Linked DNA regions of Homo sapiens: region 1 is linked to region 2. Evidence: fine-mapped expression QTL. Tissue or cell type: whole blood. Region 2 holds a variant in brackets; the other region holds the start of a gene. All regions are shown on one strand. Distances are between the middles of the regions.

Region 1 (8,088 bases), 130 kb after region 2:
GCTGGTCTTGAACTCCTGACCTCGTGATCCACCTGCCTCGGCCTCCCAAAGTGCTGGGATTACAGGCTTGAGCCACTGCGCCTGGCCTGAGATTTGGCATTTCTAACAAGTGATGCAAATGCTGATCTGGGAACTACATTTTCTGAGCAGTGAAAAAGTGTTAGATAACGTATTTCAAAACATCTCAAATCATAGATTACCTCAAATATTACCATTTCAATATTTAATGTCTTCACTAAAAGCAATCTTATATAATACGTTACACTCAATCACTTTTCAGAGCTTCAGATTCCACATAAAATATAACTAGTCTTCAATCTATTTGCCATAGGTATAAGAATAAATTTTGGTGAAAAATACTGACAGTTTAGGATAAAAGACAAAGTACAATAAGTTTATACTTACTTAAATCAGTGTATCCAGCCTGCTCATCAGCATGAGATTTATCTTTCTTTCACAACTATTTACTGAATACCCAGAAGTCTGTGTGCTTTTTAGTTATACAGGAAAACCTTACATCCTACTTTTTTACTTGAAACTCAGAAAACACATGGATATGTCAACTCTCATAGAAATTCAAAAGTATCTTTCTATAAAGCTCTACCAAGTTCTAGGCAAAGAGATAAAATTTATGTTCCCAAACCTGTTTATATAGTTAATTGTGTTTATGCTGTGCTTGGTAATTTCCTTATCAAGATAATTAAATGTTTCAACATGAGTTGCCTCATTGAAGAGGTAATGACCAACATAAAAATACATGTTACTCTCAATCAACTTTGACTATTCAAAACTTTTGTTTATACAATGGATTTGGCCAACTTAGACACAATGTGTGCTATGAAAAGTTAAACCCAATTGACTATGCTTTAAATGTTTCTCATATGCTGACACAGAGGGATTATGTTGTTTGTGAACAGATATATTTTATTTAAAACTATGTGTTTGATGATCAGGCACAGTAGCTCACACCTGTAATCCCAGGACTTTGGGAAGCTGAGGTGGGCGGATCACCTAAGGTCAGGAGTTTGAGACCCACCTGGCCAATATGGTGAAACCCCGTCTCTACTAAAAATATAAAAATTAGCCAGGCGTGGTGGTGCATGCCTGTAATCCCAGCTACTCAGGAGGCTAAAGTAGGAGAATTGCTTGAACCAGGGAGGTGGAGGTTGTAGTGAGCCGAGATTGCGCCACTGCACTCCAGCCTGGTAACAGAGCGAGACTCCATCTCAAAAAATAAAAAAAATCTATGTGCTTGTTGCTTAGTCTTCATTTGTAAACAAGAAAACTTTATTAAATCTCTGAGTGAGGTCTTCAGTCACAAAACAAAGTAAAGATAATATATTCTCTTAGAATTCAAATTGGAAACCATGGTTATCTTAGCACCATATGTAAACCACCTGAGGTATATGGTATATATGTATGTTTTATGTGTCCGTCTGTATGTGTATAGACATATATAGTCAGCCCTCCATAACCATGAGTTCTGAATCTGTGGATTCAACCAGGCTCAGATTGAAAATATTCAAGGAAAAAAAAAACTATGTTTGTACTGAACACGTACAGATGGTTTTTTGTCATTATTCCCTAAACAATACAGCACAACAACTATTTACACAGCACTAACATTGCACCAGGTATTGTAATCTAGAGATTATAGTCTAAGTATTATAATCACAGAGACAACTTATATATGGGAGGATATGTGTAGGTTATATGCAAATACTACACCATTTGTATGAGGGACTTGAGCATCTATGGACTTTAGTATCCAATGGAGGTCCTGGAACCAATTCCCCACTGATACTGAGGGAATATGAATCCATGAAACAAAATCATATTTTCTAAGGCCCTAGACATTTCATGAGTTTTTTTTAAGTCTGGGGCAAAAAAAAAAAAAAGAAAAAGAAAAGAAAAATTAATAACAACAGCAGCAAGCAGAATCTACATTTCATGAGCGCAAATATTTTTGCTGGTTTGTCTGCTATATCCCCAACACCTAAAACAGTGCACAGCACACAGCAGCTACGCAATAAATATTTGCTGAATGACGGAAGGAAAACTATTCCTGAATGCTTACTGTATGTTCAGGACTATTCTCAGTGCTTTACACTAATTATCTCATTTAGTCATTACAACTCTGTAACAGGTATTATCATAATCCCCATGTAGAGAAAAGGACATCAAGGCACATAAAATGGTTAAGCTACTGCCCAGAATTATTCTGCTAGTAATGGTAGCATAGGGATAATAAATATAAAATCTGAATATTAACAATCAAAGCTTTAAAACATCATTACACACATAAAAAAGAAAATATCTGGAATTTGCCTGATCTTGCACTGTATTTTCAGAAAAACATGAAGATCTCCAAATACATGTAAACAACATGCTCTAACTAGTACTCATTAAATTGAAACCAAAGGATTTATTGAGAATCTACTATGCGCATCACTGGTTTAGGATCTCATGAATAAAAAGGAAGTATAGGTTAAACATCTCTAATCTCAAAATCCAAAATCTGAAATGCTCCAAAATCAGAAATTTTTTGAGTGCCAATATAACACTCAGTGGAGACACTCATCAGAGCATTCTGGATTTCAGATACTCAGATTAGCAATAGTCAGTGAGTATGTATTCTGCAAATATTCCAAAATCCAAAAAAATCTGAAATCCAAAACACTTCTGGTTCCGAGCATTGCAAAGAAGGTATACTCAACCTGTATATGTCATAGTCCTCGTACTCAAGTTTTACATATTATTTTGTTAACCAAACGTTGTATATGTTAAAATTAAGTGAATTTAAAATAAATAAATATACTTTCCAGAAAGTATTTCACTGAATCTTCAGTATTTCTATTCCAGGACACACTTATCTGAGGAAAATAAAAATAATATACCTGGTTCAGTAAGTAAAGAATCTTTGTAAGAATATGCAAACATCTTCTTGGATTGATTGGAGTTTCATTGAATATACGAGCCTATGAAAAAACATAAAAAACATTGCTACTTTTCTACCTTTTCTATCACAGATTATAGCAAATCAACTTTAATACAGACTATTTTTAATCACGGTATCCAAAGAACATTGTCTATAGTTCTCAATTTACTAAGGTATCTGATAAATTATTACACGTGGCCTTGATTTTCCATCCTATACTTTCTCATTCCCTTAGGTTGACTACTTCAACTTTATGGGCTATACCAGTTAAATAAGGATCACAATACTTATCTATATCATACTAATACAATGAGATTAATACAGATAACTGATTTCAATAACCTTGCACTAAACACCTGTTCTTACATTTAAAATTCCCAACCTGTGACAGTCTTCATGTCTTTGCATTTCTATAAGCTCCAAATTCTCCTGTGACAAGTAACCCCTCTTTCTTTTCCCTCAAATCTATATTCCCTAAACTCTGTTACGTTTCTTGTTTTGCATGTCGTGATCACAGCAGCCCAGGGATTCTCTGCCCACCACTCTAAAACAGAATAGAAAAGAAAGGGCACAAGATACTTCCCAGTCATACCTCCTGTAAAACAGCACTCTTCTCCAGATGCTGGAAAGGATTGGAGCCACTACCTATTTATAAAACAAAACAAAAAAATGTCCTGAACAGCTGTTCTACACAAACTTATATACTTTCCAGAGAAGGGTACTGAATGCTTGGGAAGTGAACACTTGGATGGCACAGTGATAATCATGGCTAATACGCATACGAACTGAATGAAATCATTTTGATCCCGGCTCTGTCACTGCCATACTCGAAGAGCTGAGACTTCTCTTTCGCAGCAACCCTCTCCAAAATGAGTGTCTTCTTTCCCTGCCCTCTTTTTCCATGAATGTTAAAAATGTGTCATTTCCACAACAACGAAGATTAATGAGATTGTAGTAGGGTGCTTTTGATTTCCTTAGGTAAGCAGTATTTTATGTGTTTCTAACACTTAAGGAGAGGCAGAAACGAAGTTTCCCAGAGAATCATGCAGGCGTAAAGGTGCAAGAGGCCATGGAGGTTGACTAACCCAACCCCCTCTCACACTGTGGGAGATGCTACCAAACACTGAGAATTTTTTTCTTTTTGAGGATGCTTGGCATCTTCCCCATTTGCTCTGGACCAAAGACGGGCATCAAGACGCAGGTCACTTCTGGACACCTGAGCATTCAACGAGCTGTGTCCCACGGGACAGTCTTGCCCCCGGGGACCTGGACAGAGCCGGTGACCCCAGGAAAACGATAAGGTACCAGGCACCTGAACGTTCCTCCACACACACCCTGTGCCGTCGACCCCAGCCCCGGGAACAGGGTGCTCCCACTAGGGGTCCGACCCTACCAGCACCCCTGGACGCGGAGACGCGCGCACGCCCTCGGCCCCCGCCGGAGGCCCGCGCGCAGGGGAGGAGGCGGCTCGGAGGGGCTGCGCCGCAAGAGGGGCGGGAACGGGGCGCGCGCGGGCGCCGGGGCGGGAGCGCGCGGCCCGAAGGGAGGCTCCGGCGCCCGGGGGAGGGGCTACGGGCAGGCCCCGGGCAGCCGCGAGGGGAGGGGAGGGGCCGGCTCCAGCTCCGGCCCCCTGGCACGGCGGCGCCCACGCCCCCAGCCCCGCCGGCCTGAAAGCAGGTGGCGGCGGGCGGGGGAAGGGGCGTCCCGCGGCTGAGGGTGGGCCTCGGAAGCCCCGCGCGTACCAGACTCCTCGTCCTTCTTGTCGAATTTTTTAATCATCTTGGACGACTTCCCAGCGCCCAGACCCACCGCAACCGTCCCAGGCGCCGCAGCCGGCGAGCGGAAGAGGCTGCAGGAAGGCCGGCCCCGCGCTCTCACGCCGGTTGGGCCGCCGCGCCTTCACTCGGGGCCAAGGCCCGCCCTCCCCGGCCGCCCTCGGCCCCCGGGACGCAGCCACGCCCCCTTCTCCTCTTGCGGCCCGCCGGAGACTTCGGCTCGACCCTCCCGGCTTGCGACCCGGGAGCCCACGCCCGCAGCAGCAGGAATGTGGTTTTATTTGGGTGGCGACTTCTGCGGACCCCTCAGTCTCAAGAGAGCGAGGCGGGAGGACTGAGGGGTCTGTGTTCACCCGATGACCGTGGCCTTTTTGATAATCCACTGCGGGGCCCTCCCGTTGCGGAAGGCGCTCTCCCCGGGCGCGGTTCTGGTGGGCATGTCTTCCAAGAGCGATGCGAGTGTCAGTGGTTCCCGAATCACTTTGGAAATTGGCCTTTCACTCGCTGACTTCTTGGAAGCTACGACAAAGCACAGGCACCCTGGTGAATGTGGCTTTTCAGAAGTACTCGAAGGATACTTAATGTGAGATGTAAAGGAGACGCACTTGGAGGGACCAGAGGCTGGTCTTTAGAGGGTAGATTTTGGACCGTGTAATACCATTCCCAACCTATTTTATAATTTTTGGATTCCTTCATTTCATCAAAACCCAGTGGAAAATTCATTGCCAGTTTAGAGTCTTCCTTGTTCAAGCCTATTTCTTTCAATGATTCCATCTGAAACCATATTGACACTTAAGAAACTCACTAAATTAACGTGCATTCATTCCTAACTCATGTTCCTCTTTTTCTCAGAGTGTATGCTGGCTTTCTGTTCTCTTGTCTAAGAGTGTAGCTAAGAAACTTTGTCTGCCTTTGGCTTCACTGGCATAACTTGTTTAGAAATGTAAATTGGGTCTATACTCAACAGGATCGTGCCCCTGCAAAATTAGAGAAATTCTAACCTAGATTACATTCTACATCCTAGAGAAATTCTTTCCCTGAAATACAGATTTAAGATGAACTGTTGATATCCTACATATGGTATCATTTAAGATTTAACTCCGACTTGACTAAATGTACTATTAACTACTATGTTTGCTTTATATGGCTTGTAAAGGTCAAGTCATACTTTGTAGGTGGAGTTTTCTTTGAAGGAAATAGAAGTCTGCACTCATTTATTCTGGGGGTGAAAATAAACAGGCTTTGGGGAAGGAAACATCCTCTTCCTCTTCCTTGGCCCAAGGGTATTGGGAACCTAGGCAGAGACAGTGTAGATAATAGGCCCAGAGGTTCTCAAGGTGGGTAATGCCCCGGAGACCTGCTGAGAAGTAGAAGGACCTGAGTTCAGATTTGGGGCTGACCCTAAGACTAGCCCCTTGTAAAGCAAGATCAATCATTCTCTGCTGTTCTTCAGCTTTTCTGTATATCTATGAAGTTTTGTTTAATACCACAGGTTGTTTTTAGCTGTGCAGTATTTACGGAGTTAAGAGCATCAGTAGGTGGAAATGGGATGGGATGTGGTGGCAGATAGGTATAGCAGGAGCAGAGAAGCCTGAAGAAGCCAGTTAAGGGATGGTATAATATGACCCCAGGCCTTCGGTATCAGGACTATTTGGACTGAGGATGGCTGGCAGACGGGTTGAGCAATCACTGCAATGGCTTTGTGGGACAGGCAAGGATACCTTAGGGAGTCTCAGGAATTGTTTGAGGAGAGAAACCCAGTAGGAGAAATGGACCTTATCTTAAAACCATGAGCTGGTGAAGTCTGAGGACCCACCAATTATATATATCTAATACACAAATGTGTACTCAGTGCCCTGAAATTCTTCATTGGGTCCAAACTGCCTACTGGATAAAACCCAAACCTTTATTTAAATAATATTTAAGGCATTGTGGTATTTTCGATTTCTTGTTATTGTTGTTTGTTTGTTTTTCAGACAGGGTCTCACTCTGTTACCCAGGCTGGAGTGCAATGGCATAATCACAGCTAACTGCAACCTTGAACTCCTAGGTTCAAGCAATCCTCCTTCCTCAAGCCCCCCAAGTAGCTCAGACTACAGGTGCATGCCGCCACACCCTGTTAAATTTTTTTAAATTATTTTTTGTAGAGACAGGATCTCACTATGTTGCCCAGGCTAGTGTCAAGCCCCTGGCCTCCAGCAATCCTCCTGCCCCAGCCTCCCAAACTGCTAGGATTACGGACACGCCCAGCCTGTCAAGGCCTTTTATGATCTGTTTCATCTCTTTCACATATTGAAAGTGATATTGTTGGTGCTTGGTAAGTGTCAGACACTTAGTAGGAACCCTTGAAATACTGTTAAATAAATGATAATATGTGAGGAGGATTCTCATTGTACCCTCTGCCATACAACCTTATTCCAAGCCCCTTCTACCCCATTCCCTACCCCAATCCCAGAGACTTTTGTACCTCTAAGACACACAGACTTATCCTTTGGCCCTTTTAGAGCAGTTTTTTCTTCAAAGTATAATATGCATACCACTGGGTGGTTCTAGGTGGTACATAGATAAACATTTTAAAATTTCATTATTATAAATTTGATATAAGTGTTTCAGAAAAGCATATAATTTGTACATCAAAACCATGATATCAATGATATAGTATTAATTAGGACAAGATTTTTTAAAAATCCTTTTAAAAAATGCTAAGTAAATTAACAGCAAATAATACATCAATATGGCAAAAACTATTAAAGTGCTGGGTGATATAGCTTAGTAAACACTGCTAGAGCTTTCTTGAAATTTGAGGATTTAAACAGGGTCCAGAGCTTTGCACCTTTTGAGCCTCTATTTGTTGTTAACTTCCATGCTATAGGGAAAAATAGTCTCCAGGACTACCACGAGAGAAGCCAGTTTGCCACATCTATAATCCTCATGGATTGTATCTCCAGCCCAAATCTCAGTCCAGTAAGCCTTTGCTTTGAAAGAGAGGAGCTTACCATCTTTCCTCATATCTCTCTCATGGACTGGAGCAAAGGTGAGCTGAGGGTACATTTTCTTCTGTGTCCTCAAAGCGTAGACTTTTGAATACTTCCCTTCGCTCTTGAAATCATTGTCAGTGGAAAACCTTAACAAAGAAAGTTCTTTGTTTAGTAGATCCTAGGGCAGGGGGATTCATGGAACTATTCACTTTATTTTATTTTATTTTATTTTATTTTATTTTATTTTATTTTATGTATTTATTTTGAGACACAAGTCTTGTTCTGTCACCCAAGCTGGAGTGCAGTGGCATGATCTTGGTTCACTGCAACCTCTGCCTCCCAGGTTCAAGCGATTCTCCTGCCTCAGCCTCCCAAGTAGCTGGGATTACAGGCACTT
Region 2 (8,104 bases):
AGACAAGGAGGATGTAGAAGATGCTGGCACCTTGGAAAAGCTGGGCACCACAGTGTCAATGAAGGGCATGGGAACTGATGAAATGTCAGGTGGATTGACTTTGAGACAGGAAACAATTGTCTCCAGCATAGTAGAACCAAAAATGTAGGACGGTTAAGGGTGCCTTAAGATAGCAGATGGATCCAATGCTGCATATTGTGGATAAAAAGGATGGCAATGTTGGCAGCAGCAAGGGCAGGGCAGGAAGGGAGCTGACATCAAGGAAATGACTGCAGAGTGCAGTCATTGACTTAGAAAGTGGCAGAGGAGGGAGTGGATGCTGAAGATGAAGCTGAGGGTCTCTGGAAAATAACAGTAGGGGGATGTGCAGTACATCTTAACTAGAAAAACAGAAACTGCTCTAAAGTCCTCAAGGCATGATGTCAGACTCAAGATGGGTCCAGGAAGTTGATGGACATAAAAAAGGACAGAAGGTGCATGATAGGGGGAGAATCTCATGAATTTGAGGGTCTCAACATTGGTAAAGGGGCCAAGTGAATAGAGGGGAGGCAGAATTCAGAGTCCCAAACTGAGGTGTCCGCAGATCTCAGGATACGTTGGTGGTATGCCTGGTATTAAGACCAGACCACAGAGGCAGAATGAAGCAATAGCTCCAGCAGCCTTTAGGAGAAAGTGGGTTAAGGGCCAAAGTGATTGGTTAAACAAAGGAAGCTGGTCAGCACTGCACACTAACATGGCACCTGCATAAAAACCACAGACAGGTAACTTTAGGGACTTCACAGTGGACTCAAGCAGACTGATCCCAGATTGTAGGTAGAAGTGTGTTTGCAAAGGCCAGAGGAGCTGTTAGGACATAATGCGATGGAGACAATTTGCAACAATCACTGAATCCACGTTTCTGCTGTTTAAGGGTGGCTGAAAGGATGGAGGTATAGCTTGTAATGCAAAATATACGCAGAGGTTCATAGTGAAGCTGAGGAGGAGGGCCTTCAAAAGTTAAGTGGGAGATGTTTAGGTCAGTAGCAAATGGGCCCAGTGGGAGAGAGTATGCCCAGAGTTTGGAGAGGGTCAGGGTGTCGGGTGCTGGGATGAGGGCTTCATGTTTGGAAGACGCAAGGTAGAGAGCAAGAGAGGAGGAAAGGTAGAACAGGATGGAGGGCAAGACCTGTGTAAGAAGAAGTCTTAAACTGTAAACATGGGTGTAGTGAGGGTAGTGTGGCTAAGAGGAAATGGATCCAGATGGGCTTGATGGGGAGCAGATGGGCAGGCACGATGGCAGGGGTGCATCGGCTCACTGGGGCTGCATCTGAGGTAAATGGAAATAAAGGAGGTGAGGAAATGAGGAAGAGAAGGAAGTGGCGGGACTGGCTGTGGAGTTTTGTGGGAGCCTTCTTGATGGAACAGAAAGAAAGAAGAGGAGAAAAGGCTTGAGTGGAAGAAGGGAAGGAAAAGGCAGCCTAAGGGAAGGCGCTAGCCTGAATCAGTGGAAGATCTGGAGGAGCAACAGAAAACAGTTCTTGAAGAGAAGGTGGGATAGAGAGAGGATGGAAAAGTTTGAGCAGTGAGAGCAGGTCAAAGTAGTGAGCACATCCCTATGGAGAAGAGATGACTGAGCCCGATGAAGCAATAGGCCCTGGGTGGTTGAGAGAAATATGGGCCACAGACAGGCAGGTACCTTCCCCTGGCCAAGGAAGCAAGGAGAAGAAATGTGGACGCAAGGGGAAAGGCTTCAAGAAAGAATGTGGAAGTGGGACGATGAGGCAGTGCAACAGGGGAGTCACCTACAGAAGACAGACAGGGTGGAGGGGCCCCCAGGGAAGGATGGAGGGCAGAAAGAGTGGTGGAAGGGAGCTGGGCAGGACAGCCACAGGTGGAGTGAGGTGAAGGGGCAGGTCCCAGAGTAGGAACAAAGGAATTTGGAGTGCTCAGAGCAGCCTGCAAGGTTCGGCATAGGGAACGGAAAGTGTAAAAGGGGTGGACAGCAATAGACAGGAAGGAATGGCTGTTTTTAAAGCCTTGAACTTTGTTGCAAAGGTGTGAATCTTGGGCCAGGCTCTTTACTACGGATCCGGTGGGGAAGGGTGGGTGGTGGGGATGGGGTTCGGGGTGGGGTTTGGGTCTGGGTTGGGGATGGGGTTTGGGTGGGGGTTGCATGGGAGGGCAGGGTTGGGAATGGTGGGAGTGGGGCAGGGCATGGGGAGAGGGAATCAGGGTGGGTGGGGGGTGGGGAGTGGGGTATGTTGAGCCAAGCCCCCAGCATTGAGAACACCACTGTATTTAACTGATAGATTATATATGTTCAGGGTTGAGGGTGATGAATTCAGGCTAGGGAAGACCCTGAATCCAGGGAAAAAAGAAAGTAGCCTCACGTAGGGTGCAAGGTCAAGGTAAGGGGCTGGATTCTTACAAACAAAAAGGATTATGTGGATCAAAAGGGAAGTCTCTTAGAGGGGGGCACCTTACCACAAAAGTGGTGATTAAGGAAAAGGGACAATAGTCAACACCCAGAAGAACAGGTGGAGGCCAAAGGTAAGGACAGAGTACCTGAGAGTCCTATCAGGTGGCAGGGAGGGGCACAAAGGGTGGGGTGGGAGGCACTGAAAGAACAACTCTCACAAAGAGTGGGATTCCACCTATGTTGTATTTCAGAGAGAAAATAAGGAAGGGAATGCGGTAGTTCCACGTGGAGAGTGCCAGGCCTATTTGAGAGGGGCAGAGGAGGAAATGCTGAGATATTTGATTAAGAAGTTAAAGGAAAGCACTAGAATGCTCCAGGCCTGAAACTGGAGAGACTGAAGTGCAGGGAACCAAGGTGGTCGCAGGGAGTCAAGGTGGCCGTCCACAGCAGTGATTCTTATCTGGGATGGGGGGGTGGGTTTCACCCGAGGGAGGGCTGGGGGCACGGACCCCCAGGCAGGCCTATCCAATCATCTGAGGGGTAAGCAGTGTTCAGCTCAGAAAAAGTAAGGGAAAAAATCAATCTCTAAAATGAACGCAGACAATAGCGAAAGAGAAAACCGAGCCCAAAAGATGCCTCTGATAGGCCGCCTTGGGGTCCTGCATCCTCGGGTGAGAATCACTGGTGGACACGGGAGGATGGAGAGCCGGGCAGACATGTAGAGTGAGAGGGGAAGACGCACGTGCAGCAGGGTTGATGGAGGCATCAGGGTCAAGACTGTCAGGTGTGGGAACATAGTTCCCGACAGACCAGGACAAGGATGACAGCAAACAAATGGATGTAGCTGCAAAGGCAATGGGACCACGGTGGTGCAGCTGGGGTTTCCAACGCCTCGGTCCCAGACTGGAGGACTCAGGTGGAGGAGTGAGGCCCAGAGAAGGGTCCAGTGACACAGAGGATGTGGGC[T/G]GTGCGGGTGAGAGCAGACAGCAGGGGATCTGTTGTCATGGGGAGGGAAGGCGCAAAGGGGAATGGAGACAGCGTGGAAGGAGAGCGTCTTGAAGATATGGGCGCTAAGGAGGGAGGAGGCAGGAGGAGGGTGGGACTGACAGGAGCACCCAGGTGGAGCGGAGGAGCCGGGTCTCAGGCAGGGCAGGAGAGTCAGGTTGAGACTGGGTGCATTTGTGTGGATGTGAGGAGGAGGGTGGGGGGAGATAAGAGTGAGTGCTGATGACAAAACTGCTGTGGTGACAGGAAGAAGGCAGGGGATTCAGAGGCAGAGGCTCCCCAGAATGTTTCCACATGGTGTGAGAGAGAAGGGTGTGAAAGGTATCGGGAAGGCTTCTGGGAGTCAGGGTTGTGGTGTGCTGGAAAAGTCCCATAGCCTTGGCCACTGGATCGTGAGCATGGACAGCAGAGGAGGTGGATTCGGTGCAGTACGTGTGACGCAGAGATGACTGCATCTGGTGGAGCAGTGGGTGCGGGGCCTGGTCAAGAAAGGAGGACACACCTGAGAACATGAATTAGGCCAGTGGCAGAATCACAGATCGTGCTGAGAGAATGCAGGATGGTGCAGGTGGGACAGTACCATGCTATGCAGTAGAGGAGGAAAGCAGGAGAAATGACCAACCTAGGCCCAGGAGCTGGGAGCTTGGAGAGCAGAGGGTGAGTTTGCAGCACGTGGAAAAGCAGGACAGAGGAGAGGTGTTTCCCAATGGGCAAGAAGAATGAGTTGGAGCAGGTTATGGAGCCGAGCAGCTTAGAGAGGTGAGCTTGTTGAGAGGATCAGGGAATATGTTCCAGCAAGGGAGAATTTGCATCAAAATCCTTGGTTTTGCTGTTCAGGAATGGCAGAAATGAATGGAGGTGTAGCTTGTGAAGCAAAATATTCACAAGGAGAAAGAGACAGCCTGAAGCTCTAAGGTGTAGGGGTTGGGGCACAAGGGTGGGGGTGGGAGGTCCTATGCCAAGGACCAATAAGGAGGGAGAGACATGGGGAATCCAGAGACTTTACAAAGTCTATGAAGAAGCCCATGGAGGAGAAATCATGGTACAGGTAAGACAAGCAAAGAATGAGGGAGAGGTGGGAGGAGACCAAAGTGGAAGGAGGGTGCAGCGGTTTGGCACCTCAGAAATGTTGGGACAATGTATCAGTGAGGGAGAAGGTGAGAGGAAGGAAGGTCGGGGGGATGCCATCTAGAGAGGAAACCAGTGTCTCCCTAGTGGCAGAACGGAGAAGGTAGAATGATCAGAGCTCAAATCAGACAGTAGATGAATGAATACAGCATGTTAGGGACAAAGAAGCTGGCAGTGGCAACAACAGTGAGGGCAGGTCAGGCTGGGAGCAGACATTAAGGAAAAGACTCCTGAGTGCACTGACTGACCCTGAGGTGGTAGGGAACATGGACTAGATGCTGAAGACCAATCAGAGGGTTTCATAAAGACAACAGTGTAAGAAAAGGCAGAGGATGGCTGGTGAAAGGGTCCACACTTTATCCAGTCTGGAGTCAGAAGGCACTATGTGGGTCGTGAGATGGGTCAGTGATGTTGATGGAAAAAGAAAGGGACAGGAGGGGCGTAAGAGGAGAAATAACCTCATGAATTTATTGGGGTGGGGTGGGGGGGGTGGAGCAGAGTTGAGCTTTGATAGAGGAACCAACATGGAAAACAGGAAGATGGAACAAAGAATTCCCAAAATGGGGGTGCGCCAGACCTCATGGTGCAAATTGTTGAAATAAGCAGTATTAAAGCCAGATCATAAGAGCAGAGCAGATCGAAGAAGCAAGAGCCTGGGCATTTTTGCAAATTGAGGCCCTTAGGAGAAAATGGGGGAAAGGGCCAAAGTAACTGGGGTTACAGAGAGGGCATCAGGAATCACTGCACATGAAGACAGCACCTCCACAGAAACCACCGGCAGGGAACTCAGGGACTTGGTGATGGACTCATATCGTTTGAGTCCAGCATGTGGGGAGAAAGATGCTTATAAAATGGCAGAGGAGGGACTGCTAAGCAATGCACAGAAGACAATTTGCAGTAATCACTTAATCCTTGGTTTTGCTATCCAAGAGTGGGAGAAAGATATGGAGGTGCAGCTTTCGAAGCAAAATATCCACAGATGTCATGAGGCTCCAATGGGGGTGGGGGGCACAGGCTTCATACCTAGTGGAGCATCATAGGATTAGTGGGAAAAGTAGGTCGGTAGCAAATGGGGATGCAGCAATACAGAGTAAATCCAGTGGTAGTCAGGGTGGCAGAGATGGGTAGAGGCAAGGGTAATTCTTTCTTGGAGGCAAGAGTGGAGGAAAGGTAGAACAGGACGGAGGCCAGAACCTGTGTAAGAAGGTCTTAAATCCTAAACACAGGTGTAGTAAAGGTAGTGTGGCCAAGAGGGAAAGAGGAAACGGTGGATCTGGACAGCCACAATAGCAAGCAATATGGGCAGGGGTGCATGGGCTCACTGGGGCCCTATCCAAGGTAAATGGAAATAATGGAGATGAAGAAAGGAGGAAGAGGAGGAAGTAGCGGGACTGGCTATAGAGTTTTGTAGGAACTCACTTCATGGAACAGAAAGAGAAAAGAGGAAACAAGGCTGGAGTGGAAGAGGGGAAGGAAAAGGCAGCCGTAAGGGAAGGCGCTGGCCTGAATCAGTGGAAGATCCGGAGGAGCAATAGAAAACAGTTCTTGAAAAGAAGGTGGGATAGAGAGAGGATGGAAAAGTTTGAGCGGTGAGGAGAGCAGGTCAAAGTAGTGAGCACATCCCTATGGAGAAGAGATGACTGAGTCAGATGAAGCGACAGGCCCTGGGTGGCTGAGAGAAATATTGGCCACAGACAGGCAGGTACCTTCCCTTGGCCAAGGAAGCAAAGAGAAGAAATGTGGATGCAAGGGGAAAGGCTTCAAGAAAGAATGTGGAAGTGGGACAATGAGGCAGCGCCGACAGGGGAGTCACCTACAGAAGACAGACAGGGTGGAGGGGCCTCCAGGGAAGGATGGAGGGCAGAAAGCGTGGTGGAAGGGAGCTGGGCAGGACAGCCATAAGCAGGACAGCCACAGGTGAAGCGAGGTGAAGGGGGAGGTCCCAGAGTAGGAACCAAGGAATGTGGAGTGCTCAGGGCAGCCTGCAAGGTTCGGCATGGGGAAGGGAAAGTGTGAAAGGGGTGGACAGCAATGGGCAGGAAGGAATGGCTGCTCTTAAAGCCTTGAACTTTGTTGCACAGGTGTGAATCTTGGGCCAGGCTCTTTACTACGGATCCGGCAGGGAAGGGTGGGCTGGGTGGAGGGGATGGGGTTTGGGGTGGGGTTTGGGTATGGGATGAATGGGTGGGGCAGGGTTAGGGGCAGTGGGACTGGGACTGGGGGAGGGGTTGGGGTGGGGTGAAGTGGGCCAAGCTGTAGGCATTGAGAACACCATCTCATTCATCTGAGCTGGTGGACAATTACATGTTGAGTGTTGAGGTTGATGAATACAGGCTAGAGAAGACATCTGAGTCCGGCAAAAGAAGAAAAAACAGAGTAGCTCAGGAAGGGTAAAAGGTTAAGGTAAAGGGCTGGTTTCTGGGAAACAAACAGGATGATGACCACCAAATGGGAAGTCTCTCTGGGGGCACCTGGTCAGTGATATGAAAAGAGGAGGGATGATGAAGGAAAAATGTCAGTAGTAAGGGCCTACGAAAATTAGATTGAGGCCAAAGGTATTAACTGAGTGCCTGGGAGTCATATTAGATGGGTCAGGGCATAAAGGGTGGGGTGTGGAGGTGTCAGAAGCGCAACTCTCTCATGCAGACTGGGCTTTTGGGCACGATGTGTGTTAAGGGGTAAATGGGGCAGACAATGAGGTGGTTCCAAGTGGAGAGTGCCAGGACTGTTGGGCAGGGGGAGGGAAATGCTGGTCTTATGAGTAGGAAGTGTACCTGGAAATACCAAAATACTAAATGCTAGAAATAGGAGAGTAAAGGCCAGGGAGTCAAGGTGGCCGTCCACAGCAGTGATTCTTATCTGGGGTTGAGGGGTGGGTTTCACCCGAGGGAGGGCTGGGGACATGGACCCCCAGGCAGGCCTATCCAATCATCAGAGGGGTGAGCAGTGTTCAGCTCAGAAAAAGTAAGGGAAAAAAACAATCTCTAAAAGGAACACAGATAACAGCAAAAGAAGAAACCCAGCCCAAAAGATGCTTCTGATAGGCTTCCTCGGGGTCCTGCATCCTCGGGTGAGAATCACTGGTGGACGCGGGAGGATGGAGAGCCGGACAGACATGTACAATGTGAGGGGAAGATGCACGTGCAGCGGGGCTGATGGAGGCATCAGGGTCAAGACTGTCAGGTGTGGGAACACAGTTCCCGACAGACCAGGACAAGGATGACAGCGAGCAAATGGATGTAGCCGAAAAGGCACCGGGACCATGGTGGTGGAGCTGGGATTTCCAGCGCCTCGGTCCGAGACTCGAGGACTCAGGTGGAGGAGTGAGGCCAAGATAGGGGCCCAGTGACACAGAGGAAGTGGGCTGTGCGGGTGAGAGCAGAGAGCAGGGGATCTGTTGTCACGGGGAGGGAAGGTGCAAAGGGAAATGGAGACAGTGTGGAAGGAGAGCGTCTTGAAGACATGGGCCTTAAGGAGGAGGGAGGAGGTGGGAGGAGGGTGGGACTGACAGGAGCACCCAGGAGGAGCAGAGGAGCTGGGTCTCAGGCAGGGCAGGAGAGTCAGGTTGAGACT

The links. PIP is the estimated chance that this variant, and not a neighbour inherited with it, causes the effect.
Region 1: COPG2 starts here. The variant in region 2 is fine-mapped to the expression of COPG2 in whole blood (TOPMed, PIP above 0.99).

Annotation. Positions count from the first base shown.
Region 1 is chr7:130,663,952-130,672,039 of GRCh38, forward strand. COPG2 (coat protein complex I subunit gamma 2) reads right to left here and starts at 4,797. Exons shown (of 24, transcript NM_012133.6): 1 at 4,681-4,797; 2 at 3,531-3,583; 3 at 2,898-2,978. The coding sequence starts at 4,717. TSGA13 (testis specific 13) reads right to left here. Exons shown (of 8, transcript NM_052933.4): 7 at 7,710-7,837; 8 at 4,692-5,232. The coding sequence ends at 5,063. RefSeq lists an enhancer at 4,000-4,109 and silencers at 4,380-4,969, 5,060-5,169.
Region 2 is chr7:130,528,974-130,537,077 of GRCh38, forward strand. All of the region lies in intron 20 of COPG2 (coat protein complex I subunit gamma 2), which reads right to left. Among named protein-coding and RNA genes, the nearest start is that of COPG2IT1, 10 kb to the right of the region's middle. The variant T/G (reference allele first, on the strand shown) is at 3,365.